Homo sapiens: one gene and its partners. The protein of the gene in region 2 purifies or fractionates together with the protein of the main gene of each other region. This does not show direct contact. Each region holds a gene or a part of one and is shown on either strand. Other genes may lie near its edges.

Region 1 (4,553 bases), on a different chromosome or scaffold from region 2:
CCTCACTCTGCCGCGGGAGCTGTGAGCCCGGGGGGCAGGATGGCCTTCTGCAGGGAGGACCTAACATCCCAGCCGCACACTGGCTGGAAGGTCCAGAGCCTTCATCACAAGGCCAGAGTTTTCACCAAAACCCACAGGGCCAACTCCTGAGAACACGGATGCTGGAATTTCAACACCCAGGCTGGATGCCCCCAGAATGGAACGTGGAGCCGAGAGGTGCCGAGCCTGTGGCGGGCAGGGAGACAGCGCGGGCCACACAGCCTGTGGGCAGACGGGAAGGTGAGGGATGGCGCCCTCGAAGACAAACAACGTAGAAAATATTCCACACTGAAATGAAGCAGAAAGCGCAGCCTTCTCTCCTGGCTGAAACAGCATTAAAGCAAGAAAGAACTAAGGGAAACAAAACTGCAACCAACAGCATCAGGGGAAGGACACAGCCACTGGGAGAGGAGCCACTGAACTCCAGCAACAGCCCAGGCCTGAGGAGCTTCCTCCATGGAATTCCGAGTTGGGGAGAACAGCAAGGCTCTCTGCAGGCAGCTCCGCAGGAAGGCATCTGGTGTCCAGGAGAGACACAGAGAGAGCAGGTCTGCACCAGCACGGTGAGGACGGCTGTCTTGGTCTGAGTTTAGAAGAGGAAGCTTGTGTGGACCTGCATGGGAGCGGGCAGGAGGGCATGGTGACAGGGAGACCTGGCGCCTCATACCCTTCTGTGTCACTCCAATTTTGAAGCATGTGATTATAACAGGTTTTTCTTTTTTTTTCCAGACAGAGTCTCACTCTGGCACCAAGGCTCGAGTGCAGTGGCGTGATCTCAGCTCACTGCAGCCTCCACCTATCGGGTTCAAGAGATTCTCTGGCCTCAGCCTCCTGAGTAGCTAGGATTACAGATGCCTGCCACCATGTCTGGCTAATTTTTTGTATTTCTGGTAGAGATGGGGTTTCACCATGTTGTCCAGGCTCGTCTCGAACTCCTGACCTCAAATAATCCGCCTGCCTCGGCCTGCCAAAGTGCTGGGATTACAGGCACGAGCCACCACGCCCGGCAGGTTTTTTTTTTAACTGCATTTTTTTTTAATTTGATTTTTAATTCTTTTGAGACAGGGTCTCGCTCTGTCACCCAGGCTGGAATACAATGGCGTGATCACAGCTCACTGCCACCTCAGACTCCTAGGCTCAGGTGATCCTCCCACCTCAGCCTCCCAAATAGTAGCTGGGACGACAGGCACGTGCAACCACACCCGGCTCATTTTTTTGCAGCATTACATTTTAAAATAAAAAAAACCCTGCTATCCAAGGAATTCTTGAAGAATCAAGTAGAGTAAATAAATAAATAAATAAATGGAATAAGGCCCCCGCCCCAGGTCCAGAGCCACCTTGTGGAGAGGGCGCCTCACCCAGGCCGGCGTAGGTCCTCCGCTTGCTCAGGCTGGCCGACTTCACCAAGAACATGCACGACTGGTGCGTCATCCATGAGCAGAAGACCAAGAGCAGCGCCCCCAGGACGATGCCGCACTGCAGGGTGGAGACAGGAACACATGTTCACAGCAGCAGGTGCTCCCCAGAGGCCCTCACCCCACACACGCGGCTCATGAGGACCCTCTTCACCCCCAGGCCCCGCTCCATCCCAGTCTCCTGCCGAACGCGACACTTCCTAGCACTGAAAGGGCCATTTCCTTGCTGTGGTGGCCGCGCGCCTTGTCCAGGGATGAAGCTGTATGCGCAGAGCACAGGGGTGCCATCTCCTTCCCAGTCCCCACCTCAAGTCTTCATGGACAGCGGGGTGCTGCCAACTAATACCCCCTTGTTCTCTGCACACACCCTACATGCACCATCTTTAGCCACTTAAGTCCACAGCTACAAGTAATGAACACATTCTGGAAGAGATTAAAAATGCCATTTTCCCCGTTCTCATAAGTTAAATAGACACTTACTGTGTGACCTGGGGATTAACTGCACCCCTAGGTATTCACTTACCAAGAGGAATGAAAACGTGTTCATGAAAAACCTGTATGCCAATGTTTACAGCAGGTTTATCCACAACCCAAAAATGGAAAAACAACCCAAATGTCCTTCAACAAGCGAATGGATACAAACTGTGGTCCATTCGAATAAGGGAATATTAGTCAGCAGGAAAAAGGGATGACTACTGACACCCACCATGACACGGATGGGACTCAAACGCACCATGCTGAGCAGAGGAAGCTGGACTCTGAATGCTACAAACAGTGTCATTCTGTTTACAGGAAACTCAGAAAAGGCAAACTTTTAGGCCAGGGAACAGCTCAGTGTTGCCAGGGGCTGGGGGTGTGGAGATTTGGCTGATGACAAAGGGGCACATGGGGACCCTCTGGGGGATGAAGCTGTGTGTTCTGTTTGACTGTGGTGGTTACACAGCAAGCCCATGACCTGCACCCTAAAAAGAGTCAATCAGCCGGGCACGGTGGCTCACACCTGTAATCCCAGCACTTTGGGAGGCCGAGGTGGGCAGATCACGAGGTCAGGAGATCGAGACCCTCCTGGCCAACATGGTGAAATCCCATCTCTACTAAAAATACAAAAATTAGCTGAGCATGGTGGTGTGTGCCTGTAATCCCAGCTACTTGGGAGGCTGAGGCAGGAGAATCACTTGAACCAGGGAGTCAGAGGTTGCAGTTGAGCCGAGATTGCGCCACTGCACTCCAGCCTGGCGACCGAGCAAGACTCCGCCTCGAGAAAATAAAAAGAGAGTGAATCTTCCTGCATGTCCACTACCTCCATCGAGGTGACACTTAAAACACAAGGACCGCCACACTAGTGCGAGACGTCAGTCACGTGAACCTAGCTGGACGGTGAGGGGGGCGGGGGCGCTGCACTTTCCAGTCTGTTGTTCTGTAGACTTAAAACTGCTCAAACACATAAGTCCGGCTGGGCACACTGGCTCACAACTGTCATCCCAGCACTTTGGGAGGCCGAGGCAGGTGGATCATTTGAGGTCAGGAGTTCGAGACCAGCCTGGCCAACATGGTGAGACCCCCACCTCTACTGAAAACACACACAAAAAATTAGCCAGGCTTGGTGGTGGGCGCCTGTAATCCCAGTTACTTAGGAGGCTGAGGCAGGAGACTTGCTTGAATCTGGGAGGTGGAGGTTGCAGTGAGCTGAGATTGAACCATTGCACCCCAGCCTGGGTGACAGAGTAAGACTCCATCTCAAAAAAAAAAAAAAAAAGTAAGTCTATTAATACCAAAAACTCATGAGATATCACCAAGCACTCATCAGAATGGCTCCAGCGGAAAAGACACGATACCCAATGCTACCGGGGATGCGGGCCGGCATGTGCACCACTGCACCCACATGGCAGCTCCAGAGCGGAGCACACGCACCCTGGGGCCCGGCCACTCCACACAGGCACGCACCCAGCAGAAACCACCCCCTGCCAACGCCTGTCCAACTCCTCAGGGCATCACAAGAGCTCCCAATAGGAGACACCGTAAATGCCTCACAGGGGTAAACTACACACAGACACGCATGGCGGTGCAGCGGACACCAGAACGCAAGCCAGACACTCGCACTAGACACCTGCACAGCAGGACCCACCCACCTCAGTTCAAACCAGGCAGCACCACCGTGGCACACTAGGGGTCAGCAGTGTGCCCCGGGTAGGCCGCCACGGCCACAGAGTACGCTCCTTAATTTGGGAGCTAGTCACACGGGTTTGCTCGTCATATGAAAATTCATCAACAGCACATCTAAAGAAGTGTGTACACATTTTTGTATGTCAAACTTCAATGTTTATTATATATATAATCTATATAGATCTATATCTATATCTATCTAGATATAGATATAGATATATATTTTTGTTTGTTTGAGACAGAGTCTCACTCTGTTGCCCAGGCTGGAGTGCAGTGGCGCGATCTTGGCTCACTGCAAGCTCCACTCCCGGGTTCAAGCGATTCTCTTGCCTCAGACTCCCTAGTAGCTGGGACTACAGGCGCCTGACATCGCGCACAGCTAATTTCTGTATTTTTAGTAGAGATGGGGTTTTATCATCTTGGCCAGGCTGGTCTTGAACTCCTGACCTCGTGATCCACCCTCCTCAGCCTCCAAAAGTGCTGGGATTACAGGCGTGAGCCAACACGCCCAGCTATGTATATATATAAATATATCAAAACTACTAAAACAAAAAAAAAAACACTAATCCAAAGTTTTTCAATGCCAAGGCTGCCAAACACTAAACACACACATCCCCAAATCGCCTGCTGGCGTCTCCCTGCGCCCCAGTCCAAGAAGGCTGCCGTGGAGGAGACGCTGCGGCCAGATCAGAGCAACTGGGCCTCCCTCTGGGCAGCCCTCAGGACTCAGAAGGACGTCTCTAGTCCTTCACTTCCTGACAGGTCTGTGCAGATGCCCGGCTAATCAGCACATGCTCTGGCAGGGGCCTAATGTCCACCACATGGCAGGTGGTCCAAGGCTCGAGATAGCTGGATCGTCTGGGCCCTAAGATGTACTTTCACAGGTGTCTAAACCAGAGCCCCTTCCACGGTGGCACTTCACCGACAGGCATCAAA
Region 2 (4,553 bases):
GCAGAGAATTCATGCAGACTTTTGCTTAGTTCAGCAGTCAAGGTGTATGGCTTACTGGGAAAAGTTCATTCCCTTTCAAACGACCCATTAAGTCTTCTATGAAATTGCTTTTCTTAGAAGGGTAATTGGCAAAACTACTGTGTAGATCCGAAGCACTTGAATATCACTTCAAACTATCATGTAACTATGGTCTTTTAAGTAAAATACAAAAATGCTTTCTCTGTGATGCATTTTGGGCAAGATTAATAGAAATGTAACTATAACCGGAATTACAAACTTTCTCTCTAAAACCAAAACAAAAGGAAAAACTAAAGTTGTGTAATGATTGCCAAATCGACATGTATATGTTGTAGAAAATTAGGGAATGGCAAGGATTTCCAGGTAAAAATGAAGGTCACCTGACCCACCTGACACCCCTGTGACATGTATGATGTGCTGTTTTATAAAATTACAGTCACCTTGTAGCCCAGTGTAGACCAGCTACACTAACGGAGGACACTACCTGTCTAAGGCACTGGTCTAGGGTGGGGCTCGCAGACTTCAGGGAGGTACTGCTTTACAGAATCCAAGTGGGAAGGAGTCCTGGTCCTTTACACGAGAAGCTCCTTCTGTTTCCCACTGTGCAGTAACCCGGGAGCACTCACACAACCTCCCGGGAGCTGCTGGTCTCCAGTTTCTGAGACACATGGGCCCCACTGCAGTGGTGCTTACAGGACACACTGTAGCCTCCAGTGCCATCCTGAGCGCCCTACAAAACTGTGGTGTGTTTCTTTCCTTCTGTTTGCCCCACCAGAGCCAAGGCCAGGAACTCCCGGCTGATTTGCAGGCGCCTGTGTCAGTTCTCCACTCGTGTACACCCAGACGGGGGCTCGATGGCACAGGTAAGTTGCAATCACTGGCGCTGTCCCCGAGGACAGGGCCATGTGCAGAATGTGTGGTCTGAGGTCCCCCAAGCTGAGGTTAAGGTAGTATTCAAAAGGGAAGCACTCTGTGTCCAAGGGTGCTGCTCACATGGGAATGATGGTGGGTGGAGCACAGAAGAGAGATGGAGTGAGAGGCAGGAATGCTTCCCAGCTGTGGGTGAGAGAGACAGACGGGTACCAAAGTGGGAGCCCTCAGCACTGCAGTGCCACCATCAGGCTGCGGTGATGGGCAGATGCCCAGGGCAGGCTCTGAAGTGCCCAGAACATGCAGTGAGGGACAGTGCCGTGATAAAGGATGGAGGGAAATTGGTAGCCATGGCAGAAGCTGTGTGCTGTGGTTTTAAAATAAAATGCTTAGGAAAGACTGTGTGTAGGAGACAGATGGGAATAGAGATGTGTTTGTGGTCACATGTGCACGTATGTGTTGGTGTGGTTTTGTGTGTGGTGTGTGGTCATGTATATGTGTGTGAATGGTGTGTGTTTGTTACATGGATACATGGACTCTGTGTCCGTCCTTCACGGGAAAAGCCCTGTGTGGCTACCGGCTTTAGGGCCACATATTTCTGTTCCTGCTCTGGGGTCAGCTTCCAGCGGTTTCTACTGGGTTGTTATTTATTTTTTGGAGATGGGATCTCACTCTGTCACCCAGCATGGATTATAGTGGTGGGATAATGGCTCACTGCAGCCTCCACCTCCTGGGCTCAAGCGATCTTCCCACCTCAGCCTCCCGAGTAGCTGAAACTACAGGCGTGTGCCACCACACCCAGCCAATTTATTTCTTATTTCTTAAGAGATGGGGTCTCACTCTGTTGCCCGTGCTGGTTTGGAACTTCTGGTCTCAAGCAAGCCTCTGGCCTCAGCCTCCCATAGCAGGGCGATTACAGGCATGAGCCACTGTACTAGGCTGTGGGGGAATCCATCTGAGAAGGCTTTGTGAGGCGGCCAGCTTCTGGAGGTTACAGGTGTCTTCTCCTTCCCTGTTGGGGCAGGGCCGCCTCACCACACTTCCCCAGGACTTCAGGGAACAGGCTCTTGAGACTTGGAAATGAAAAGGGATCAGCCAGCCTGGAGGAACAGCGACGCTGGCGTCCAAGCCTTGCCCCTTCCCTGCACTTCCAGCAAAGATATGGAGACACTCAGTGGAAACCGATTGGGCCCCCAGCCTGCCCCGCCCAGACTCACCCACCAACGTTCCCTCACTCCATGTGGCACACAGGCTCACAGGATTTTCTCTGCCTGCAATCGTCCACATGCACACCTGCTGCCGGGGTGCAATTGTGAGTCCCCTCGGTCTCTCTGCAGCATCTCGGTGTAGATGACGATTTACAGTCACCCTTGTGTGAAGCCACATGAGGCCTGGTCTGAAGCAGAGAAGATCCGCTCAGCATCACGTTGGATCCCAAGCCCGCGTCTCCGTGGGCTCCAGGACAATCCTATGAAAATAACACCGTCGGTTCATTGTTCACATCGGGGAGGAGAATTCCATCTGAAAATGCACGTGACTTCACTGACACCCGCGTCCGTGGCACAGCCCTGTGCTGAGCTCCACAGACCTACAGTCCATCGCCTCCCCTTCGAGAGGGCCCAGGGCTGCAGACAGCGTTGTCCATAGAAGACACCCTGACTCGATGAATGGAACAAACTGGAAACTCCAGAAACAAGCCCTTCTTTATATTTCTGGTGTTTGGCTTAAATGGAAGGTGCCAAGGTGAGGCAATGGGGAGACATGGAAGGGTGTGTAATGAGTGTGCTGCAGCAGCTGCATAACCACATGCCAAACACACACACACAGCTCAGTCCCACCTAGAAAGCAGTGCACAATCCATCAGAGACCTCATATTTAGAGAGGAAAGTTTAACCTCCCTAGAAAACTCACAGAATATGTTTTTTTAATACTAAATATACAGTTGTCCTCTTAAATTGGTTAAGAGCACAAAACGTAACAGGCAGAAGGTCTGTTTCAAACAAATTAAAAAGCTATGTTTTTTCAAGTGTGTTTTTAAAGTTTTCCCCAAGTGAGATATATACATACCCACAAAAATAGTGTGTGAAGGAAAGCTGTCATACGGAAGGAGTTGTGTCCTGAATTCTTCAAGGAAACACATATGGAAATATGAATTGATAGAGACAGCAACACATTAATAATTTTTTAAAATTGAATCTTAAAATGCTGCATGGCACAAAGCTATAGTATAAAGTATTGATAAGTACAAAGGGAAAAGTCTGTACAGCTTTTAGCAAAAATGCTTTTGCAGAAAAGCAAATTAAAATAATGCAAACAGCATACCGAGGTGGCCACAGCTTGACCTCAGAGCTACAACTTCTCATATCTGTGTCAGAAAATCCTATGTATCCAGAATAGAGTAAAATTTCAGGACAAAACATGGACTTTTTAACAGTTCTTACTTTACCCATTTTAAGTTATTTTTATCTCCCCTACCCCCCAGGGCAGTAATTCAGCAAGATCCAGCAGAAAGAGGGCTATTTGATGTTTCTTCCCATGGGGAGAGTGTCAGGGAGCCTGGACATTTCAGGCTCATGCATCCATGACCAGTCTCCCACTGGGGTCAGAAAAATTCAGCCATAGACTTGGTGAACTTGGCTTCCCGCTGCTGCTTTGTTCTCCTGCTGATGAAGGTCAGCTTCAGGGTGTATCTGCCATCAAACCTTTTAAGACTGGAGGGCAGCTCCCAAATAGCATCAGAATCCACTCCTGTAGGCTCTTTTCTGTGGGCCACGAGAAAGATGGTCTTCTCCTTAGATGAGGTCTAAATAGTCAGAATTCCCATCATCACAAAGCCAAAACGGGCTTGGACTCTGGAAAGGGATGCATATAATCCCAAATCACAGCCACTATGGCAAAGCAACAGGAGATTGTACAGATGGTGAGGTGACCGTCAATTAGACAAAAATTCTCCACGTATTTGTATTTTTCCAGAAGTATCTTTTTGGCAGAATCATCCAGAGTTTTTCACAGCTGATCCATCCCACTTGTCCGTTTTTCCAGGCATATCACTTATCTTCGACTTATCCACATGCCGCTACGGCCACTGCCTGTCCCGCAGCTGGAACCCCCGCCAACCCCACCACCGCCTGCGCTACCGCCCCCCTCCCGCCCGTGCAGCTGCTGCCGCCATCTGTCCGCCTCTGAGTCTCCCTCCAGAGAATATCTTTGTGATCTTCTGTTAAGCAATGTCTTCTTTGATAGATCCCAAAAACATTATTTCCGAAAAAAGAAGAATAAATGTGACTTTAAGCATTTAAAAATTTCCCTTCAATTGACACCATTAAGAGAATGAAAATATAAGCCACAGACTGAAATAAAATATTTTCAAGTCATATACTTGTATCCAGAATATTTAAAGAATTTTCAAAACTCAGCAATAAGAAAACTCTGTTTTCAAATGGGCAAAAGATTTGAACACAAAACTTCCACAAGGCAATAATATGAACGACAAAGCACATGAAAAGCTGCTCAACATCATTTCCCACCTGGGATCCACGAGCTAAAACCACAATAAGATAGCATGGCACCCATGTTAGAAAGGCTACAATAAAAATGATCAACAAGATAAGCCAGGCACAGTGGCTCATGCCTGAAATCCCAGCACTTTGGGAGTCCAAGGAGGC
Region 3 (4,553 bases), on a different chromosome or scaffold from region 2:
TGTAAAATGGAAACCAGCTTTCCCCGGGTGGTGAGGGGTGCTGATGCCTGGGGCTCAGCCAGTGCCAGACAGACATTGCTGGCTCCAGGTGGAGGCCAGATTCCTCACGGAAGCCAGAAATTGCTGAGTGGCAGCTAGAACCTCCTCAGTGCCAGGTGTCAACACACCCAGAGGGCCACATGCTCCCCACTCCCCCAACCCATGATTCTGATCAGTGAGAGGCCAGTGGGCTTCTGCCCACTCTGCACAATGGTACTGTGTGTCAGGTGCAGGGGCCTGACCCAGGCTACACAGCCAGCACTAGGGACTGAGGACTGTCCCCTGCAGTCAGGCTGACATCACGGACAGCAGGACTCCCTACAGGAAAAGGGGGGACTGCAGGGGCCTCCTGGCAGGACCACCCAGCTCCGAGCAGGCTCCAGACAGGAGCTCTCACCCTACATCGAGAGCCCTGTGTTCTTCCAAGGCCTTGAGGGCTTCCTGAACCCTGCTGACCACCCCAGCCCTGGAGAACCCCAACCCTCCCAGGCTAAGGGAAGGGCCTTTGGAGAAGACCCTTTGCAGGGCTGAGACCACTCCAGTGCCCTCAGGCTGGCCCTTGCCCCGTATGTCCACTGCAACAGTGGAGATGGCTGGAACCCAATGGGTAGGCCAGGAACAAAAGCAGCCAAGGAGGCCTCCCACTGGGCAGGACGGCCCAGGAGACAAGACTACACTCCCAGAGGCTGATGATGCCTCTCATCACCAGACCTGCTGCTCAGGCCCAAACCCTCTCCCTGTCTCAGGCCTGCCTCCTGTATACCCATGCCCACCATCATATCCCACTCATCCTGCTGTGCTCTCTTAGGTCCAGCCCCTCCCTCCCAGCAGGAGAGCCCCTGGTCTCCGGCCTCATCCCTGCAACTCACTCTCCACATGAGCCCCGTCCACATGTCCAGCACTTGCTGAGCCCCTGGGGGCATTTCCCACAACACAGATACAACCAAATAATGCCCTGCTTAAAGACGTTTTGTGGCTTCCAAATTCCTCTGCTGTCAATCAAGGTCCTCCACAGTCTGGCTACTTTTTTAGCCTTCCCATATACCTTCTTCAACACCCCCAAACCCACTGCCTGCCCCAGCCCACCTAGCAGGGCTGACTGCTGCTCCCAGAAAGCCCTTCACTCTCTCTTCATTCACCTTGTGCCAGCAGATCAGTCCCATCTGGGCCTGGCGCGCTCTATTACCCTGCCCTTAGGGACAAACTGCCCTCCACCCGGCCCTGGTTGAAGCCCTTTCTTTCTGCCCCTAGGGGCCAGGAGCGCATGCTTCACAAAACTCTGGCTGCCTCTGGAGGATGCCCGCTCCCTGCCTCTTTACACTCTGTCATCTCCCTTGGTCGGCCCTGCTGCACAATCAGAACACAGCATCCGAAGTCATCTCTGTGGCCCCAGTTCCCTCCCCTGCCACCTGGCACATGCTAACTGAACTGACTCCTCAGGCTTGTGACTTCATGGAGGGCAGCAGTCGGGAAGGAGACGTGCCAGGGCTAGGAGAGCCCCTGAGAGCATGCGACCCAGCCCTGGGCTGCGGGGGCCTCTGCGAGGCCCTGAGCAGCATCTTTAGGACCAGGCAGGGTGGGGGTGGAGCACAGCTTAGCTGGTGGCGGGGCCACTCACCTCGAAGATGAGGAGGATGCGGGTGTCACGCAGTATGCGCTCGTACGGATAGTCCCTTGTGTAGCCCAAGCCCCCGAGGATCTGCAGCGCCTCACTCACACACTGCCAGGCGGCCTCGGAGCTGAACACCTGTGGGGTGTCACACTGAATCCTTTCCAAAAGGAGGACCTACGCTGCAGGGAGCTGGGTGGCTGGGGAGGCATGGGAGGCACACGGGCTTGGGGAGGAGATCGGCCAGGGAGGAACTTGAGGGGTGATGTGGTCAAGTCCTTTGCCTTCCGTGACCACACTGGCCAGCTTGTGTTCCCTACCCCACCATGACCTTCTGTACCTCTGGGCCTGCCTTCACCCTATCTGCACCTGGCTGAGCTCCTGTTCCTTTAAAACCCACCTAAGATCTCCCCTTCCCGAGAAAACCTGACCTGTTCCTGCCAAGCCCCAGCGGCCGTGATTTCTTTCTGTCTGTGCACACTATAAGTGCCTTGGGGGCAAACATACTGCCATGTTTAGCCCTAGGCTTAGCATCTGGAAGAGGCTGGCCTACAGCAAACTAATGTCTGTGGTCACTGTTCAAGGGTGACAAGAAAACGAGATGATAAAACACATGCAAATGCACCCAGTACACAGACTGCACCTAGAAAAGACTCAAACACGGTCCAAGATGCCCAGCCTTTTTGTTTTTAATTTTTTATTTTTTTAGGGACCTTGCCACTTCAGGATCCCAACCTTTTAGGTAGACTCTCCTGCCGACACCAGGATGTTTGCTTCTGTAAGCTGCCATACCTCTCACTATTTCTCTCAAGAGCTCAATTCCAGAGACCAGCTTAAAAACAATTGTGGGGGGCACAAAGTAGGGTCCCCCCAAGTGTGGCCATCTTTTTTATTACAGCTAAAAAATGACACCCTCCACCCTCAACAAAACAAAAGCAAATTCTAGTATCTACCTTAACCAAATAAGATGCTCTTCCCACCTCAGCCTCCCAGGTAGCAGGGACTATAGGCGTGTGCCACCATGCCAGCTAATTTTTGTATTTTTTGTAGAGATGGGGTTTCGCCATGTTGCCCAGGCTCATACATGTTTTTTGTTTTTTGTTTTTTTTTGAGATGGAGTTTTGCTCTTGTTGCCTAGGCTGGTGTGCAATGGCACAACCTCGGCTCACTGCAACCTCCGCCCCCACCGGGTTCAAGTGATTCTCTTGCCTCAGCTTCCCAAGTAGCTGGGGTTACAGGTGCCCGCCACTATGCCCGGCTAATTTTTTGTGTTTTTAGTAGAGATGGGGTTTTACCATGTTGGCCAGGCTGGTCTCGAACTCCAGACCTCAGGTGATCCATCCACCTCGGCCCCCCAAAGTGCTGGGATTACAGGTGTGAGCCACCGCGCCCTGCCATATGCTTAGTTTTTAAGATAAAGTTTTGATACCAGAAAGTAGGAAGGCCATAAACTAAGGAAAAAAGAAGTCTTTCTCACACAAGCCAGATGCAATGTTATTACTCTAAAAGGATATTATCATAACGGTCTCCTTCTGCTATAAACTACTGATCCACTGGCCCACTGGACACTTCCCTACTGCTGCTCCCCGCTGCCTGCCTATCCCTGGAGTGCTACACAGGGCAAGTGCATCATAAATACTGGATCAATGACAGGAGGAAGATGACAGGCAACAGCATGGGCTTGAAAGGTCACAGTGAGGGAGATTTCCCAAGCCTCCCTCCAGCGCCAGCTCTCTGGCTATGCCAGGGTTACCTTCACCATGGCTGCCTCGATGGAGCAGTCGGGAAAGCCAGGTTGGTCCAGCATCCCTGCTGTGAGGTAGGTCATACTCTCCATGACGTAAGCCTTCTGAGCCATCAGTGCAAATTTCTCCTGGAGTGTTCAGAAAAAACACAAGAAACAATTTGCATGTGCTGAGAGCCAAATCTGTGAAACAGGAGAGAAAGTAATTAAGTCAGAAGCCTCAATGCCCAAGAGAAGCAAGCCCAGTGACCCGTGTCAAATAAAGCCTTAACTAGTCTTCTTCCCAAATCACCACAGAAGTCACCAGTACAGAGACATCAAAAGAACACACCGTTCATGTCACACAGTGAAATGCACAAATACAGTACTCAACCATTGGTACCTGAATCAATCCAAATTCACTGAGCCTCTTGTTAAACTGTTTCCTTGTGCAGGCGTACTCAGCAGTCATTTCTGAGGAAGAGCAGAGTTATTAGAATGAACTGGAATATTTCTGTGGTTCAAACATGATTTCCTATGGCCATCATCCTTACCCTTCCCACAGGTGGGCACTGTGAGAAGCGTGTCTGCTGAGGTCAAATACCCCAGAAGCTGGCACCCCCACTTGCCAGCACCCGTGGGTCAGAGGAGAACCACCCCTCCTCATGGCACCCACACACAGAGTTTGGCATCAGATACAGACTTGAATCCTGGCAATGGTTCTTACAGGCTGTGCCTCAGGCCGAGTGCGACACCTCCCTGAACACCACCCCCACCTCAGAGTCGCTGTGAAGATGCAACCAGGTGGAAGGGGGAGGGCGCCTCGCACAAAGCCAGGCACAGAGGCCCCAGACAGAGGTGGTGCAGGCTCACACCCCGTGCAGTGACCAAAGCAGGTGGGGCCGCCTGGCTTGAATACTCAGGCTGGGGCTTCCAGGCGTGTGGCTGTGACAAAGTGCTGAGCTCTAAGGGCCCAAGAGTGACATGGCGCCTCTCCCAGGCAGAAGCACCCCCGCCCCGCCATAGCCATGTCCTCCACAGGCTCTCCCAGGTGTGGTGCACTCAGGAGGTGTAGAGGGCCGAGCCCCACTCAGAGCCCCAGCAGAGGAGCTCCCCAGAGGCCTTGTGCCTGAGTAAGAAGAGCCCTGAGCCTGGAGCCTGACAGCTTTCATTTTGGGTCCA
Region 4 (4,553 bases), on a different chromosome or scaffold from region 2:
TAAAAAATCAACTATACTTGTGTAAAAAAGAGTTATCGGACTTGGCTTTGACTTATTTTTGGTATTGTGTTTATGTGGAGTTGTAACCAACAAAATCAATAAAAAGGATAAGTATATTCCAGAAACCTGTATTTACGTCTCCTTGCTTTTCCCTACAATTTGCCTGTTGCAAATTTCTAAGAACATGGGATTGTTAATGTCTCTTTAAAAGATGTCTTAAAGTAATACAGGTAAATTTCACTGTCAGGAAAGTCTGTGATGATTGAGATGTAGAACAGATAAATTTGTGGTTAACTCAGTATGAAAAGGATTGTTAGGTATAAGTGATGGCTGTGCAAGATTGCTTTAAGTAGCTAGAGGGCTTCTTGAGTGATTGTCCCCTTCTATTGGGACAACTATAATTGGAGGGACCATTTCACCTGGTATCATTTGTGGCAAGATATTTGGTGTTTTGACAGAAAAATATATTCTGTGTGAGATAGCTTGCTGGATCTATGCAGGCCTAAGGTTTTTATGATTGCAGCCCTTAATACAACTGTAAAAAAAATTTTTTTTTTGGCCTGGCATGGTGGCTCATGCCTGTAATTCCAGCATTTTGGGAGGCCCAGGCGGACGGAACATGAGGTCAAGAGATTGAGACCATCCTGGCCAATATAGTGAAACCCTGTCTCTTCTAAAAATACAAAAATTAGCTGGGCATGGTGGTGCACACCTGTAGTCCCAGCTACTCGGGAGGCTGAGGCGGGAGAATTGCTTGAACCCAGGAGGCAGAGGTTGCAGTGAGTTGAGATTGCACCACTGCACTGCAGCCTGTGCGACAGAGCAAGACTCCGTCTCAAAAAAAAAAAAAAAGATTCGTTTTAAGTGCTTCCAGGGATAGGAAGAGGAATGACAGCTGATGAGGTTTCTATATGTGCCTGGTTTCTGTTTTGGAAGCCTCCCAAACGGAATTGGGTAGTGTTTCACTTGTACTTGTGGTGGGTGTGGGGATGGAGGTAACTTACACATTGAATGAAAACTTCATGTGTCAGCCAGTTGATGAGAGTTGCCATACTATTTTGTCAGCATGTAGCAGGAAGAAAAATCTTTTAGGAGCCTGGAACTTGTTAATGCTTTTCTATTTGTTTTCTAAACTAGGTGGCTATTGAGAGTTATACAGAACATAGCAAAATAGGTAAGAATATGGCCTCTGGAGCCAGCCTACCTGTGCCATTGCTAGCCGTGCTACCTTAGAAAAGTTACATACCCTCTCTGTGCCTCATTATTTTTTTCTTCCTCTGTGAAATGGGGTGGTGATAGAAGCCTAACTCCTAAAGTCTTTGTGAGGCTTGAATGAGAATGTATATAAGGACTTAGTGCTGTGCATGGTAAACAGTAAGTGCTCAATAACCATTTTTTTAAATCAAAAGTTTTATATGTTTATTTTTATAGAGACCGGGTCTCTCCCTGTGTTGCCCAGGCTGGTCTTAAACTCCTGACCTCAAGTGATCCTCCTACCTCAACTTCCCAAAGTGCTAGGATTACAGGCCTGAGCCATTGCTCCTGGCCACCGTTTTTAAGTGTTCTTAAGAGATTTGGATAGGAGTGTATGGAAAGCGGACGGTGGAACTGAAAAGGACAACTGTATGTATAGACAACTTTTTGAAAAATTGTATAAACATACGTGATGGGTTTTTGTATCTGTCTTTGCTGTTGAGGGTGAGGAGGAGTAGGGATCAGCATGGGGACATTCTATGTAAGATTACTAACAGGTTACATTTTGAGGTTTAAATAAATGAGAAAGTCCTCATGAAGTCTGAGATATCACCTTGCCCACATTGCAAAGGAGGTCTCTGCTTTCTCAGCTTAAAGTGGGAAAAATGCTTTCTGTGGGCTTAAAATGTGTCTCATAAGTCTTCCAAATCCCTGTGTAGAAAGAGTCGCCTAGTCCTGCACCCTCAGATGTTAATTCCTCTTCTCAGGCTTTATGGACAGTGTGGTAATGGAGGGAAATAGGTTACTCATTACTGGGATTCAATTTGGCTCCACTGATGGGAAGCAAACAGTAGTTGGGTGTTTGCTTTTATTTTACACTTGTGTGACACTTGAACACATTGATGTCCTGTCTCTATATGTTCATGGATTCAGAGCTACAGAGCATATGAGAGAGAACCAAACACTGATGCACACCTCGTACCCTCTAATCTTTTCTTTTTTTTTTTTGCAGACTGAAATCAGCATGATATTTTTCTGGCCAAACAACAAAATGTGATTTTAAACTACTCAGTTTAGCTATTTTTGGGGAGTAGCAAAGTGACACAGTTGGCTGCTGAATTCTAGCAACTAAAAAAGAAAAAAATGAAAGCATAGTTCATGGAATATGTAACACTTCCATGTAAGAAAATAGGACAACTGGTCTTATTTTTGGGTCTGTGATACTGTCTTTCTAAGTGAGTGAAGCAGGGTGTTGTATAATGCAGTGGATATACTTTTGAGGAATTCATACTAGTTACAATATACATCTAAGAGGTATTTGAGTTTTCATAGCATTGCTGCCTCATGAATCCTGCAGTGCACTTAAATCAGATCTGTTCATTAATTGGGAATGATTTGGATAAGGGGACACAGCCATAAGCAATTGACCAAGCATAAAAGCATAGTCCAGATTAGTGAGGAAATATTACTGACTTTTTAAGGTTGTCTCGAGAACTTTTTAAGAATTGTCAAAAGGATTTATTTACAAAGCGGTGGTTATTTATAAATGAGTTCTACCTGTTTTTAAAATGACACTTTTCCAGAAGCGTTTCTCTTCAGTAAGTGTGGAGGCTTAGCTCTGTCTGTGGGTAGCTAAGGGTGGTTACCCAACATCTTACGGAAGTGGGGTTGGGTGGCGCTGGGGCTCTGGGAGTTTCAGATATACATATCTCTTATTCAGAATCCACACCAAAACCACAGAGACCTGGGTTGAAATTCTTAGTTCATTACAGCATTTACCTTGGGCAAATGGGCCTCACCCTTTTAATCTATAAAATGGGAATAGTAATTATAATAGCCTACGCTTACCAAGCACATGTGATCTATGCCCCGTGCTTGAGCATTTTATATGCTTTTAATCATCCCTGGAAGTATGAACCATGATTATTTCCACTGTAGGGTTAGGAAACTAAAGTTGAAGAAGGTAGGTCCAAGGTCACCGGGGTAGCAAGGCGCGGGGAGCGGTGGGGGGCGGTGACTGTAATATGTTTCTCTAATCATTGCTCAGGATTTTTTTTAAATTTTATTTCAGACCATTTGCTTTTTGAAGAGAGTATGGAAACTATTTTTCCTAATTGCACAGGAGGGCCAATTGAAAGATCTAGCTTTTTATGTATTTCACCCTGTTACTTTTCCCATATAAGCAAGTGCCATGAACACTGGGTGGAATAAAGGTGTCTTCCTGTACTTGCTACAATTAAATAAGTAAGTAATGCAATTAGTATAGGATTTTATTTGGTTACGTTGAAGAGATGACCTTTCAGCAAATTACTTTAGCTTCTGAATAAGCTGATAATAACTGTGGATAGAGTCTGAATTTGTTGGTGGTGAGTTTTTTTTTGACACTACTCCTCTTCCAAATTACCTAAATTGATTTGCTTTGTAATTTGAGAACTTTTGTTTGGGGCTTTGAATATGGTTACTTTGTAGTAATGCGGTATTTTTACTGTCCCATGTATATCATCTAAGTGTGGGCAGCAGGCTCTGAATCATAACTTCAGGAAAGGTCTGAGGGTGTTGTGTTTGGCAAGAAATGGCTTGGATTCTGCATTTTTCCTCTGGAGTTTGGAACTAGCCATGGGAGCCAGCCAAACCAGCTGTGGGATCTTGGGCAAGACCCTCAATTTCTTTCGGGTTGTTTGCCTCACCCTTCACTAAATGGCTTCTAAAATTTTTTTCTGGAATTTTAGAGATTGTTGATTCCAGGCTAGGCAGTTTGGAAGGGTTATGGTCTTTTTGCAGTATGCAAGTCAGATGCCCAGGACACACTGTGATTTGTGAGGTGCACTTGTTGACTTTTTCCTGTGAGGGTTTGCTTCCTAAGGCGTTGAGAACCCTTCCATTATCTTGCTAACCTTGCTACGGATTATCCTGAGGGAGTAGCAGACAAGGTGGTGAGTGGAACTTGGTTAATGGAATGCCTATAAGCTATGTTTTTGTTTGTTTGTTTGTTTTTTAAACATGAAACCTTATTTCTTCTGGAGACCAAGTTAAAAAAAATATGGAGATTTGCTCATGTCAACAAAGTTATGTGTATAGCGTTTAAAACTATCTAATGTGATTTATGATTGGAGTGGTGGGGGCAGACGTCTTTGTCTAAAATGAGAAACGAAGCTCGTTCTGGATCTTGTGTCTGGAAAGGAGAAATGGAGAAAGGACAGGCATTTATTTGGGTTATCTGGAATTCTACAGATGTTCTTTTGGCCATACTGCATTTAAAAGAAAAAATAAATTAAAAATTAAGAATGCATTAAAAATCAGTCATTTTGCATTCATGCCATCAACAAGTTTCTGGGTGCCTAGAGCATGCCAGGTGCTGT
Region 5 (3,875 bases), on a different chromosome or scaffold from region 2:
AATTTTAACGTTTCCCTTCCTTCCTACATTAGAAACTGAACTAAAAGAAATGTCCTATTCCTTCTACTCTTGAACTTTCAAGTGTGCCTTTTTATTCATCAACTTTATTTTCATATTTCTTCTCTATGTAATTTACTTATTATTAAGCACGATCTTTTAAAACTATATCTGGCTTTAATTGTTTGTGTTTTGTTTTGAGATAGGGTCTCACTCTGTTACCCAGGCTGGAGTGCAGTGGTGCCATCTTGGCTCACTGCAACTTCCACCTCCCAGGTTCAAGCGATTCTCCCACCTCAGCTTCCTGAGTAGCTGGGACTATAGGCGCACACCACCACACCCGGCTAATTTTTTTTTTTTTTTTTTTTTTGGTAGAGACGGTGTTTCACCATGTTAGCCAGGCTGGTCTTAAACTCCTGAGCTCAAGTAATCTGCCAACCTTGGCCTACAGGTATGAACCACCACACCCTGCCTAAATAATTATACAGAAGCTCTCCAGGATATATTCCTAAATTTTAAAAACACAAAAAACAGGTACAGAGTATGCTAATTTTATTTATATTTTGAGTTTAACAAAGGAAGAAAATGGCTGGGCCTGGTTGTGCATGCCTGTAATCCCAGCACTTTGGGAGGCCAACACAATAGGATCAACTGAGCCCAGGAGTTCAAGACCAGCCTGGGAAACACGGTGAAACCAAGACTCTAGTAAAAAAACAAAAAACTTATCCAGCCATGGTGGTGCATCCTTGTAGTCCTGGCTATTCAGGAGGCTAAGGTGGGAGGATCACCTGAGGCTGGGAGGTTGGGGCTACAGCGAGCCCATGCTGCACTCCAGCATGGACAACAGAAGAGAGACCCTGTCTCAAATAAGTAAATAAATTTTAATGAACATAAATAAAAATGAATTATACATATTAATAGTTATTCCAGTAATTTTATCTCTAGGAATATAGCCTATGAAAATAGTTAAGGATGTTTACCTCAGAGTTTGTTCCGACAGTAGAAAACTCTGAAAACAATCTAAATCTACATGTACATAATGAAGAACAAGTTAAGAAAAAAAAATTTTTTTTTTTGAGACAGGGTCTTACTCTGTCACCCAGGCTGAAGTGCATGCAGTAGGGTGATCTCAGCTCACTGCAGCCTTGACCTCCCAGGCTCAAGCAATCCTCCCACCTCAGCCTCCTGAGTAGGTGGGACTAAAGGCACATGCCACCACACTGGGCTAATTTTTGTATTTTTGTAGAGACAGGGTTTTGCCATGTTGCTCAGGCTTGTCTTAGACTCCTAGCTTCAAATGATTCACTGCCTTAGCCTCCCAAAGTGCTAGGATTACAGATGTGAGCCACTGGACCCAGCCAAAATTGTTGTCTACTTATATAATATCATGCAGACATTAAAAATGATGTAGAAATATATTTGAAGAGAAAGTTGTAAACAATAGTTCAGTGAAAATACTGTATATATGTTATAAAACACCACTGGAAGGGAAAAGTGTGACTAGAAAAGTGTAGAAGATACATATTAAAAATAGTATTTTTGTGCCAGGCGCGGTGGCTCACGCCTGTAATCCCAGCACTTTGGGAGGCCAAGGCAGGCGGATCACGAGGTCAGGAGATCAAGACCATTCTGGCTAACACGGCGAAACCCCGTCTCTACTAAAAATACAAAAAATTAGCCAGGTGTAGTGGCAGGTGCCTGTAGTCCCAGCTACTCAGGAGGCTGAGGCAGGAGAATGGCGTGAACCCGGGAGGCGGAGCTTGCAGTGAGCAGAGATCGTGCCACTGCACTCCAGCATGGGCAACAGAGCCAGACTCTGTCTCAAAAAAAAAAAAAATAGTATTTTATCTGCTGGGTATGGTGGCTCATGCCTGTAATCCCAGCACTTTGGGAGGCCGAGGTGGGCGGATCATGAGGCCAGGAGTTCAAGACCATCCTGGCTAACACGGTGAAACCCTGTCTCTACTAAAAATACAAAAAATTAGCTGGGCGTGGTGGTGGGCACCTGCAGTCCCAGCTACTCGGGAGGCTGAGGCAGAATGGTGTGAACCTGGAAGGCAGAGCTTGCAGTGAGCCGAGATCCCGCCACTGCAGTCCAGCCTGGGCGACAGTGCGAGACTCTGTCTTACAAAAATAAAAATAAAATAAAATAAAAATAGTATTTTATCACTGGATAGTGGTAGTACAAGATTTTTTTCTGTACTTCCCAAATTGTTTTTATAATGAAGTAGTTATTTTGTATAATAATTCATTATATATATATTACTTAAATACAAGTATATATAATTTGTGTTATATATCTGTATTACTACATATATATGTATGTATTGAGTGCTTATTTTGTGCTAGGCACTAGGACAAAATTCTAGGTACAGGGGAAACTGGTAGGAACAATATAAGCAAGATCTCTGCTCTCACAGAATTTACAGAATTTAGGGCCAGGTGTGGTGGCTCAAACGCCTATAATCCCAATACCTTGGGAGGCGAGTCGGGTGGATCACTTGATGTCAGGAGTTCGAAACCAGCCTGGCCAACTTGGTGAATGAAACCCCATCTCTCCTAAAAATACAAAAATTAGCCGGGCGTTGTGGTACACGCCTGTAGTCCCAGCAGGAGGATCTCTTGAACCTGGAAGGCAAAGGTTGCCGTAAGCTGGAATCACACCACTGCACTCCAGCCTGGGCAGTAAGAGTGAGACTCCATCTTAAAAAAAAAAAAAAAAAGAATTTATATAATTTATGTTCCAGGGAAGGCAGTAGAGTGACAATAAACAGATGAATGAATGAACAAAGTAATTTTAGTTAGTGATAAGTTCTATGAAGAAAGTTATAGGATGGTGGTGTTGAAATAACTGGATTAGAGGGTCCAACTTTAGTTACAGGAATCAGGAAAGGCCTCTCTGAGGCAACTTTTGAGCCGAGAGGTGAATGACAGGAAAGAGAAAGCAGGTGAAGACATGGGGGCAGAGCATTACAGCAGAGCAACACTAAGTGCAAAGCTCTGAGATGGAAATGAGGTTGTTAAATCTGACAGAAAAGGGGCTGGTGTGGAGGAAGGAGGTAGGAGGAGAGATGGAAGATGAAGACAGGAGGAGAGATGGAAGATGAAGACAGGGGTCCGATATTGTAGGCCCATAGGCCATGTGCAGGAGTTTGGACTTTATTCTTTTTTTTTTTTTTTTTTTTTCTTGAGATGGAGTCTTACTCTGTCACCCAGGGTGGAGTACAGTGGCGCGATCTTGGCTCACTGCAACTTCCACTTCTCAGGTTCAAGCGATTCTCCTGCCTCAGCCTCCTGAGGAGCTGGGACTACAGGCGTGTGCCACCACCTGCTGCTAATTTTTTGTATTTTTAGTAGACACAAGATTTCACCATGTAGACCAGGCTGGTCTCAAACTCCTGACCTCAAGTGATCTGCCCATCTCAGCCTCCCAAAGTGCTGGGATTAAAAGCATGAGCCACCTAGCCCAGCCTGGACTTTATTCGAATTGTAATGGGAAACCACTGAAGGGTCCTGATATGGTTTGGCTGTCTCCCCACCCAAAATCTCATCTTGAATTGTAGTAATCCCCATGTGTCAAGGGAGGGACCAGGTGAAGTTAACTGAACCATGGGTGTGGTTTCCCCCATACTGTTCTAGTGACAGTGAGTTCTCACAAGATCTGATGGTTTTATAAGGAGATTACCCCTTCATTCGGCTCTCATTCTCTTTCCTGCCACCATGTGAAGGAGGATGTGTTTACTTCCCCTTCTGCCATGATTTTATAAGTTACCTAAGGCCTCCCCAGCCCTGCAGAACTGTGAGTCAATTAAACCTCTTTCCTTTATTAATTACCTAGTCTCAGGTATTTCTTCATAGCAGCAGCACGAGAACAGACT
Region 6 (4,553 bases), on a different chromosome or scaffold from region 2:
CTCTTGGGTTCAAGCGATTCTCCTCCCTCAGCCTCCTGAGTAGCTGGGATTACAGGTGCCCACCATCACGCCCAGCTAATTTTTGTATTTTTTTTAGTAGAGACGGGGTTTCACCATGTTGGCCAGGTTGGTCTCAAACTCCTGACCTCAGGTGATCTGCCCGCCTCGGCCTCCCAAAGTGCTGGGATTACAGGCGTGAGCCACTGCGCCCGGCTAGATTTTTATAGTTATTATTGTGTACTTGTTCTTTGTCCTCCCATTGGTCTTAAAGCTCTTTGAAGCAGATCTTTTTCTTTCTCAGCTCTGCATCTCTGTATCTCCCAAAGTACCTAATGCAGTTAAGCTTCCTTTATCCAAAATGCTTGGGACCAAACATGTTTCAGATTTCAGGTTTGGGTTTTTTTTTTTTAAATATTTGCATATATAATGAGACATCTTGGGGATGGAACCCAAGTCTAAACACAGAATTCATTTATGTTTCATACATACCTTATACACATAACCGGAAGGTGATCTTATTTTTCCCTTGGGGACACTGAATAAACTGCATCTGTGTGTTGACTGCATTAGGTCAGGTGTGGAATTTTCCACTTATGGCACCATTTCAACACGTAAAAAGTTTCCGATCTTAGAGCATTTTGGATTTCAGATTTTCAGATTAGAGATGCTCAACCTGTATATGCTTAGGAAATACTTAAAGAGTTAATACTCAAGTCACAGGCAGTGTAGGTCAAGAAGTCCCAAAGGAATGTCTACCTTCATTACACTCATCAGCATGCTTGCTCCCCATCTCCTCCTTCTTTGGGGTAGTGCCTTCATTCCCTGGCTTCCTGGTGATATCATCCCTTCTTAAGGCCCCAGACCAGAAAAATGGGTCTGGGTGTCCAACTCTCAAGTCCAGCAGACTATACTTACACTCAGCCTGGACTATATCCAGAACAGCCCAGATAGTTCTTCCTGTTGTTAATTACAATTTTTTTTTTTTAATTTTTTTTTTATTGATAATTCTTGGGTGTTTCTCACAGAGGGGGATTTGGCAGGGTCATGGGACAACAGTGGAGGGAAGGTCAGCAGATAAACAAGTGAACAAAGGTCTCTGGTTTTCCTAGGCAGAGGACCCTGCGGCCTTCCGCAGTGTTTGTGTCCCTGATTACTTGAGATTAGGGAGTGGTGATGACTCTTAACGAGCATGCTGCCTTCAAGCATCTGTTTAACAAAGCACATCTTGCACCGCCCTTAATCCATTTAACCCTGAGTGGACACAGCACATGTTTCAGAGAGCACAGGGTTGGGGGTAAGGTCACAGATCAACAGGATCCCAAGGCAGAGGAATTTTTCTTAGTGCAGAACAAAATGAAAAGTCTCCCATGTCTACTTCTTTCTACACAGACACGGCAACCATCCGATTTCTCAATCTTTTCCCCACCTTTCCCGCCTTTCTATTCCACAAAGCCGCCATTGTCATCCTGGCCCGTTCTCAATGAGCTGTTGGGCACACCTCCCAGACGGGGTGGTGGCCGGGCAGAGGGGCTCCTCACTTCCCAGTAGGGGCGGCCGGGGCGGCTGGCCGGGCCGGGGGGCTGACCCCCCCCACACTCCCTCCCGGACGGGGCGGCTGGCCGGGCGGGGGGCTGACCCCCCCACCTCCCTCCCGGATGGCGGCTGGCCGGGCAGAGGGGCTCCTCACTTCCCAGTAGGGGCGGCCGGGCAGAGGCGCCCCTCACCTCCCGGACGGGGCGGCTGGCCGGGCGGGGGGGCTGATCCCCCCCCACCTCCCTCCCGGACGGGGCGGCTGGCCGGGCGGGGGGCCGACCCCCCCACCTCCCTCCCGGACGGGGCGGCTGGCCGGGCGGGGGGCCGACCCCCCCACCTCCCTCCCGGACGGGGTGGCTGGCCGGGCTGAGGGGCTCCTCACTTCCCAGTAGGGGTGGCTGGGCAGAGGCGCCCCTCACCTCCCGGACGGGGGGGCTGGCCGGGCGGGGGGCTGACCCCCCCACCTCCCTCCCGGACGGCACGGCTGGCCAGGCGGGGGGCTGACCCCCCCACCTCCCTCCCGGACGGCACGGCTGGCCGGGCGGGGGGGCTGACCGCCCACCTCCCTCCCGGATGGGGCGGCTGGCCGGGCGGGGGGCTGACCCCCCCCCACCTCCCTCCCGGACGGGGTGGCTGCCGGGCGGAGACGCTCCTCACTTCCCAGATGGGGTGGCTGCCGGGCAGAGAGGCTCCTCACTTCTCAGACGGGGCAGCTGCCGGGCGGAGGGGCTCCTCACTTCTCAGACGGGGTGGTTGCCAGGCAGAGGGTCTCCTCACTTCTCAGACGGGGTGGCCGGGCAGAGACGCTCCTCACCTCCCAGACGGGGTCTCGGCCGGGCAGAGGCGCTCCTCACATCCCAGATGGGGCGGCGGGGCAGAGGCGCTCCCCACATCTCAGACGATGGGCGGCCGGGCAGAGACGCTCCTCACTTCCTAGATGTGATGGCGGCTGGGAAGAGGCGCTCCTCACTTCCTAGATGGGATGGCGGCCGGGCGGAGACGCTCCTCACTTTCCAGACTGGGCAGCCAGGCAGAGGGGCTCCTCACATCCCAGACGATGGGCGGCCAGGCAGAGACACTCCTCACTTCCCAGACGGGGTGGCGGCCGGGCAGAGGCTGCAATCTCGGCACTTTGGGAGGCCAAGGCAGGCGGCTGCTCCTTGCCCTCGGGCCCCGCGGGGCCCGTCCGCTCCTCCAGCCGCTGCCTCCCGGGCGGCCGTTAATTACAATTTTAAGAGCAGATTTCTGAGCCATATTTCTGACTGTGCCAAATAAATGAAATTCCTTTTGAATGTAATGCTGTCCTCTAGCAGCAGTGGGTAGGAAGGATAGGGAAATGGTACCTGGAGATGATAGTACTGTGCTCTTATTATTATTAGATTGTTATGAGATTCGGTTTTTAGACATTGAAACAGAGATGACACAGAGGTTGAAGATCCCAGCTGCCCAGGGTTTCCCCCACTGCTTTATAAAGATACTGCCTGGCTGGGCTCAGTGGCTCCCACCTGTAATCCCAGCACTTTGGGAGGCCGAGGCGGGCAGATCACCTGAGGTCAGGAGTTTGAGACCAGCCTGGGCAACATGGTGAAACCCTGTCTCTACTAAAAATACAAAAATTAGCTGGGTGTGGTGGCGTGTGCCTGTATTTCCAGCTACTCTGGAGGCTGAGACAGGAGAATTACTTGTACCGGGGAGGCGAAGGTTGCAGTGAGCCAATATTGTGCCACTGCACTCCAGCCTGGGTGACCGAGGGAGATTCTGTCTCCAAAAAAATAAAAAAATAAAAAGATGCCTCCTGGTGAGCTGGGAATTCTGCAGTGTCTGAGTTAAGAGTAGCGGTATGGCCGGGCACGGTGGCTCACGCTGTAATCCCAGCACTTTGGGAGGCTGAGGCGAGCAGATCACGAGGTCAGGAGTTCGAAACCAGCCTGTCCAGCATGGCAAAACCCTGTCTCTACTAAATATACAAAAATTAGCCAGGCGTGGTGGCATGCTCCTGTAATCCCAGCTACTCAGGAGGCTGAGGCAGGAGAATCACTTGAACCCTGGAGGTGGAGGTTGCAGTGAGCCGAGATCGCACCACTGCACTCCTGCCTGGGCGACAGAGCGAGACTCCATCTCAAAAAAAAAAAAAAAAAAACAGTAGAGGTTTGTCTGCAGCCCCAGATGGTGGCCTCCCTGGGGTCCCATCATGTTGGAGCCCAAGTCCAGTCCCCATTTTGCCCCCTGTGACAGACTTTGAAACAATTTGATGTGTTACATAAATACTCTATATTTTTAAATCTCGAATTATTGCAAGTCTATGCAAATTTTCAATTTCAAATAAATTTTTCTGTTACCTGAATGTTTTACATATGCATTATGTTTATGTTAGTTTTCTAGAAGTCAGCAGAGTTCTCTGAGTTATAATGAGATGATAAATATAAACGGTGTTTTATTAGCTATAAATGCGTATCACTTAAATGCTGTCTGGTAAGCCAATCCAGGATAAACTTGTTAACATCTTGGGTACAGTTGTCAGGATTTATCAGAGAATGCTATGAATATAATATCTAAATTTTGGCAAGGCATTTGGTGAAGTCTGTCATAAGTTCTTGTAGATAAAACTTCATGGACAGAATGATACAATTAAGAGGATTCATAAGTGGGGGATGACTCAAACCGAAGAGGGCTAGTTAATGAATTAGTGAGAGCCTGGAAGAGCGTTTGAGGCAAGGGCCAGCAGGGAGCCTGCTCACCAAAGGCCTCCACCCTCCAGCTTGCCCACATTTTTAGTAATTATTTGATTTTGGGCATTTAGGCATTCCTGTGAAATTGAAGTTTGCCAACTACTTTGTATGCGTTTTTGAGATAGGGTCTCACTTTGTCGCCCAGGCTGGAATGCAGTGTCAGCATCCTGGCTCACTGCATCCTCAACCTCCTGGGCTCAAGTGATCCCCCACCCAGCTGACTTTTTATTTTTTGTAGAAATAGATTTTCACAGTGTTGTCCAGGCTGGTCTCAAACTCCTGGGCTCAAGC
Region 7 (4,553 bases), on a different chromosome or scaffold from region 2:
AGGAGAATGATACCGACTTTGGAAGGAAAAAAAATCACTTTGGCAATATTCCATGAAATTACAAGCAATTTTGAGAAGAGCTAATGAACAGGAAAAACTATACTTGTTTATAGTAGAGTTCAGCTTGGAAAGTAAAAACCAACATCTGATTTTTTAATGAAAAGTTTATTTATTTCCATCCCACAGACAGACTTGTTTATTATTTTAGGACCTAAGATTTAGAAAGTTCAAGGCCTTAGAGGCAGGAATTGGGTGGAGAAGGGTTTGAAAGAAGAAAGGACATTGAAAAGTTAGATATAACCTTGGCTTTATTTTTGATCAGCAGTTAGATGACAGAAAGTTCTAGGTCATTTTCAGAGCATTACAGATTTGTGCTGTTATTCATAAATTTGTAGAAACAAGGCCATTTGAGGTTTGGGTGGAAATTTCTGGCCCATTTCTTCAACCTTATCTCATGTCATTGTATTTAAAAAAAATGAGGTAAACTTCATAAAGACTCCAAACATGTTAGTCAAAATTCTGAATTTCCAGGCTCTTAGAGATTTATGTCACATCCTTTTAGTTGAATACAATTTTTTTTATACCTAAACTGTCCTTTTTAATTTTCACAAGGATTTCCCTGAGAGGTGATGCTAGGAATGTGAGCAAAGAAGGTAAATAATTTGTTCAATTTTTAAAAATAGTTAAATGATCTAGTTATGTAAACTTAGATGTCTAAAATAGCATATCCTAATATTTTCATACATAATTAAGTAGCTATTTTTCAAATAAGGTGCTTCCTTTCAGTTCCTAGTGCTAGTCTCTTAATCATGGTCTCCACTATACTTTTAAATATTTTCTCTCTAGTAAAATGTCTCTAGTCTCCAAATAATTGCCAGAAGCAGGTTTTTGGAGAGGCTAACACGTTACGATAGTCACATGGACAGAAGGCAGGCAGACATATCCAGGCTTGACTGTGGACTGTCCACTTAGTGTATGCATGACGGACCATGGATAAGACATTGAGACTCACTCTGATCTCCGTTTTCTGGTCTGTGAGGATCACCTTAATGCAACTATAATGAGGAGTCAATGAGAGGAAATTTGGAACACCCCTGGCTTAAACTAAGTGCTCACTAAATGGTACCCGTTAGACTAAAATAGTACATGGCACTCAATATATTGAACCTAGCATATGCCCCAGCAAGCAGAGCCTCTAATAAGACAGTAATTTCAAGTTTTTCTTCTTGATTATCAGAAGCAGATAATTTTCATTTTCTTGAAATGAAAATCAAAGGTCCCCTTGAGTAGAGATTAATGAAAGGAGGACTACAGTATTCCTGCTGGACTAGATGGTCCAGGAGAGCAGGGGACCTGTTTGCCTCATTTTCTGTTGTGTCCTGTATGCCTGGAACATAACAAATGCTTGGTGGTTACTTTTGAATGAAGGAAGTGCAGTTTTATGCACGCCTTCTGAGAAACAAGCGGCTGGACCTCAAATTTTCACCCTGCTGAGTAGTCACAATTCAATCTGGATTTTGTTTAAGCCTACCTAATGAAAGGTTACTGCTTGAACACATCACTTGGCTTCCAAAGCCACTAAAGCCCCAAGTTTTACCCTAATTTTTTGATTCAGAAATTATTTTTTAGAAATATAGTAATCCTGGACTGGGCGCAGTGGCTCACTCCTGTAATCCCAGCACTTTGGGAGGCCGAGGCAGGTGGATCACGAGGTCAGGAGATTGAGACCATCCTGGCTAACACAGTGAAACCCCATCTCTACTAAAAATACAAAAAATTACCCAGGTGTGGTGGCATGCACTTGTAGTCCCAGCTACTCAGAAGGCTGAGGCAGGAGAATGGCGTGAACCCAGGAGGCAGAGCTTGCAGTGAGCCGAGATTGTGCCACTGGCCACTGCACTCCAGCCTGGGCAACAGAGCAAGATTCCATCTCAAAAAAAAAAAAAAGAAAGAAAAAAGAAATATAGTAATCCTGGAAAATTCAGAGTTTGTCACCATATAGAGATATAAAGAAAATAAGATTGGAACAAACCATTCTGCTTTATAGGTGATTGATGAAGGGCATTTTCATTATTTTGACAAAGTAGGCTTCATCATTTTGGCAGAGATGGAAATCACGTTGGGCAATGGCTGCTTAACACACTCTGAACTCTGCTATCTTCTGTTATTAACCAGAAGTCTGTTACCCAGCGCTTCAACACATATTCATGTGCTCCTAAGTCAATCAGAATTCACAGTGATGATCTCAGACACCATAATATCCAGAGGTACTTTCTGAGTCATCAAGGAGAGATTAAATTATGCTCATTCAGGGTCTCCCATCGAATGCAGTTATTACTTTCTCATTCGTTGGAAATTGGTTAACTGGATATTTGATTTACCAGTATACCTCAGTTTTTCCATTAAAGCTGAGTACAGAGATTTACTGTAAAATAATATCACTGAAAATAACGACCTCAATCCTCCATTACAAAACTCATTTCTCCCTTCCATCCTGAAGTGGTCTTAAGCTTTCCAAACAAGGCTGCCAAGTGAAATACAAAATGTCCAGTTAAATTTGACGCAGACAAACAAGACATAATTTTTCAGAATAAGTATGTCCCATGCAATATTTGAGACATATGTGTACTAAAAAATTATTCATTATTTCTCTGAATTCTAATTTCACTGGGCATCTTGTTTCTTGTTTTGTTGTTTATTTGCTAAATCTGGCAACACTATTTCCAAAGGGTTTGACCTGCACCGGGCTGACCTGTACCAGCCTGCTATGAAGGGACAGAGTTAAACGCTAGCATCTCATTCAAACCTTGAATTAATTGTTAATGTAATTTTTCTGCAAATTATTGTTAAAAGTGAGTCACATAGTTTTCAGTCAAAGGTAAATCAAGTTGCCTCTTCATTTTTTTTTTTTTAATGAGGCAGCTATATGGAAGGAATAACAGTCTCACTTTGCACCATGGATATGTTGGCTAAATGGGGACAGGGCATCACTAAGTCTATGAATACAGAAACTGTGCCCCAGCCGAGTCTGCATTAGAGAAAGGGCATTAATCTGGTGACGGTTCTGCTCTCCTTACAGTATTCAAGTTAATTATGTTTGCCTCCAAATGGTAACATCTGGTCCCCATTACCAGCTAAACATTGCCTTTCTAAAAGCTTGTTTGGAATCAGGCAGGTATGAACACCGTGGCCAAAAAATGGCACTCTATTTTTAACACTACAGTTTCATAGTCCCTTAGTAAAATTGTTTTTGTAAATCTTTTTTTAATCCCGACTGAGTATATTCTTGGTTTCCAGATCCCAGCCTGGAGCAAATACTGTGGTTAAGTTACAGGAAAGGGCAATTGAGAAAATGACAGCTGCCTTTCATTGTATTAAGTTGATTCATTCAACAAATATTTGTTGAGCAAATACTATGTATAAAACAGGGCATGAAGAGTCATATAAAACAGAAAAATATGACTTAGTTCGTGTCCTCAAAGAAGTTAAAATCTGGGGAGGCAGAAAGCAGCATTCCAAAGAACTAAATGTGCTCATCAGCATTTGAGGGCTGGATATGGTGGCTCAAGCCTGTGACCCCAGCACTTTGGGAGGCCAAAATGGTAAGATCTCTTGACCCCAGTAGTTTGAGAGCAGCCTGGGCAACATAGCGAGACCAAAAAAAAAAAAATTGCCAATCATGGTAGCATCCACATGTAGTCCTAGCTACTCAGGAGACTGAGGTGGGAGGATTGCTTGAGGCCAAGAGTTCAAGGCTGCAGTGAGCCATGATCACACCACTCCACTCCAGCCTGGGTGACAGAGTGAGACCCTGTCTCTAAAAATAAAAATTAAAAAAAAGGCCGGGGTGTAGAGGGGCCAGGCGCCGTGGCTCACACCTGTAATCCCAGCACTTTGGGAGGCCGAGGCAGGCATCACGAGGTCAGGAGATCGAGACCATCCTGGCTAACACTGTGAAACCCCTCTCTACTAAAAATACAAAAAATAAGCCGGGCGTGGTGGCAGGCGCCTGGAGTCCTAGCTACTCGGGAGGCTGAGGCAGGAGAATGGCGTGAACCCGGGAGGTGGAGCTTGCAGTGAGCCAAGATCGCCCCACTGCACTCCAGCCTGGGAGACAGAGCGAGACTCCTTCTCAAAAAAAAAAAAAAAGAAAGAAAGAAAGAAGGGAAATGCAGATAAAATGGTGTGAAGAGGCCCAGAAATGGAAAACTGTGTCCAGTTGCAGAGAACAGAAAAACTGAGTAAACGATGTGGCATTTGAAAACAGGTCAGGATTTTAAGCAGTTCAGATAATGGAAAAGGGTAACATGACAGGGAATTCCTTGTGGAGGGAACAGAAAGAAAGCTCCCAAACTCCCAGAAGTAAGGAAGTTCTTCATGCCAATTGGCACTGGTTAAAGGAGTGAATGGGGAGAGGCCTTGCAAGGACATGACATGGAAGGCCTGCATGCCTGACTGAAAATGACGTGCGTAATTTCTAGACAAGAAGGCACTGAATGTCTGAGTAAAGAAACGACATGATCTGGACCATAGAACTCATGTGGAAAGTATCT

The links.
Region 1: the proteins of ZDHHC11 (region 2) and SLC38A10 purify together in Homo sapiens (co-immunoprecipitation; one large-scale study listed by IntAct). This does not show direct contact.
Region 3: the proteins of ZDHHC11 (region 2) and ACAD9 purify together in Homo sapiens (co-immunoprecipitation; one large-scale study listed by IntAct). This does not show direct contact.
Region 4: the proteins of ZDHHC11 (region 2) and PTPRG purify together in Homo sapiens (co-immunoprecipitation; one large-scale study listed by IntAct). This does not show direct contact.
Region 5: the proteins of ZDHHC11 (region 2) and NDUFAF1 purify together in Homo sapiens (co-immunoprecipitation; one large-scale study listed by IntAct). This does not show direct contact.
Region 6: the proteins of ZDHHC11 (region 2) and THADA purify together in Homo sapiens (co-immunoprecipitation; one large-scale study listed by IntAct). This does not show direct contact.
Region 7: the proteins of ZDHHC11 (region 2) and NRP1 purify together in Homo sapiens (co-immunoprecipitation; one large-scale study listed by IntAct). This does not show direct contact.

Annotation. Positions count from the first base shown.
Region 1 is NC_000017.11:81,288,294-81,292,846, forward strand, and holds part of SLC38A10 (solute carrier family 38 member 10), read right to left. Parts: intron 1,516-4,553; coding exon 1,398-1,515; coding exon of another isoform or gene 1,377-1,397; intron 1-1,376. UniProt on the Homo sapiens protein: Facilitates bidirectional transport of amino acids. May act as a glutamate sensor that regulates glutamate-glutamine cycle and mTOR signaling in the brain. The transport mechanism remains to be elucidated.
Region 2 is NC_000005.10:815,853-820,405, reverse strand, and holds part of ZDHHC11 (palmitoyltransferase ZDHHC11), read left to right. Parts: intron 1-793; coding exon 794-881; intron 882-3,114; exon of another isoform or gene 3,115-4,079; intron 4,080-4,553. UniProt on the Homo sapiens protein: Endoplasmic reticulum-localized palmitoyltransferase that could catalyze the addition of palmitate onto various protein substrates and be involved in a variety of cellular processes.
Region 3 is NC_000003.12:128,903,354-128,907,906, reverse strand, and holds part of ACAD9 (complex I assembly factor ACAD9, mitochondrial), read right to left. Parts: intron 3,846-4,553; coding exon 3,775-3,845; intron 3,522-3,774; coding exon 3,402-3,521; intron 1,787-3,401; coding exon 1,658-1,786; intron 1-1,657. UniProt on the Homo sapiens protein: As part of the MCIA complex, primarily participates in the assembly of the mitochondrial complex I and therefore plays a role in oxidative phosphorylation.
Region 4 is NC_000003.12:61,568,071-61,572,623, forward strand, and holds part of PTPRG (receptor-type tyrosine-protein phosphatase gamma isoform 1 precursor), read left to right. Parts: intron 1-4,553.
Region 5 is NC_000015.10:41,388,905-41,392,779, forward strand, and holds part of NDUFAF1 (complex I intermediate-associated protein 30, mitochondrial precursor), read right to left. Parts: intron 1-3,875. UniProt on the Homo sapiens protein: As part of the MCIA complex, involved in the assembly of the mitochondrial complex I.
Region 6 is NC_000002.12:43,295,039-43,299,591, reverse strand, and holds part of THADA (tRNA (32-2'-O)-methyltransferase regulator THADA), read left to right. Parts: intron 1-4,553. UniProt on the Homo sapiens protein: Together with methyltransferase FTSJ1, methylates the 2'-O-ribose of nucleotides at position 32 of the anticodon loop of substrate tRNAs.
Region 7 is NC_000010.11:33,215,737-33,220,289, reverse strand, and holds part of NRP1 (neuropilin-1 isoform a precursor), read left to right. Parts: intron 1-4,553. UniProt on the Homo sapiens protein: Cell-surface receptor involved in the development of the cardiovascular system, in angiogenesis, in the formation of certain neuronal circuits and in organogenesis outside the nervous system. Mediates the chemorepulsant activity of semaphorins.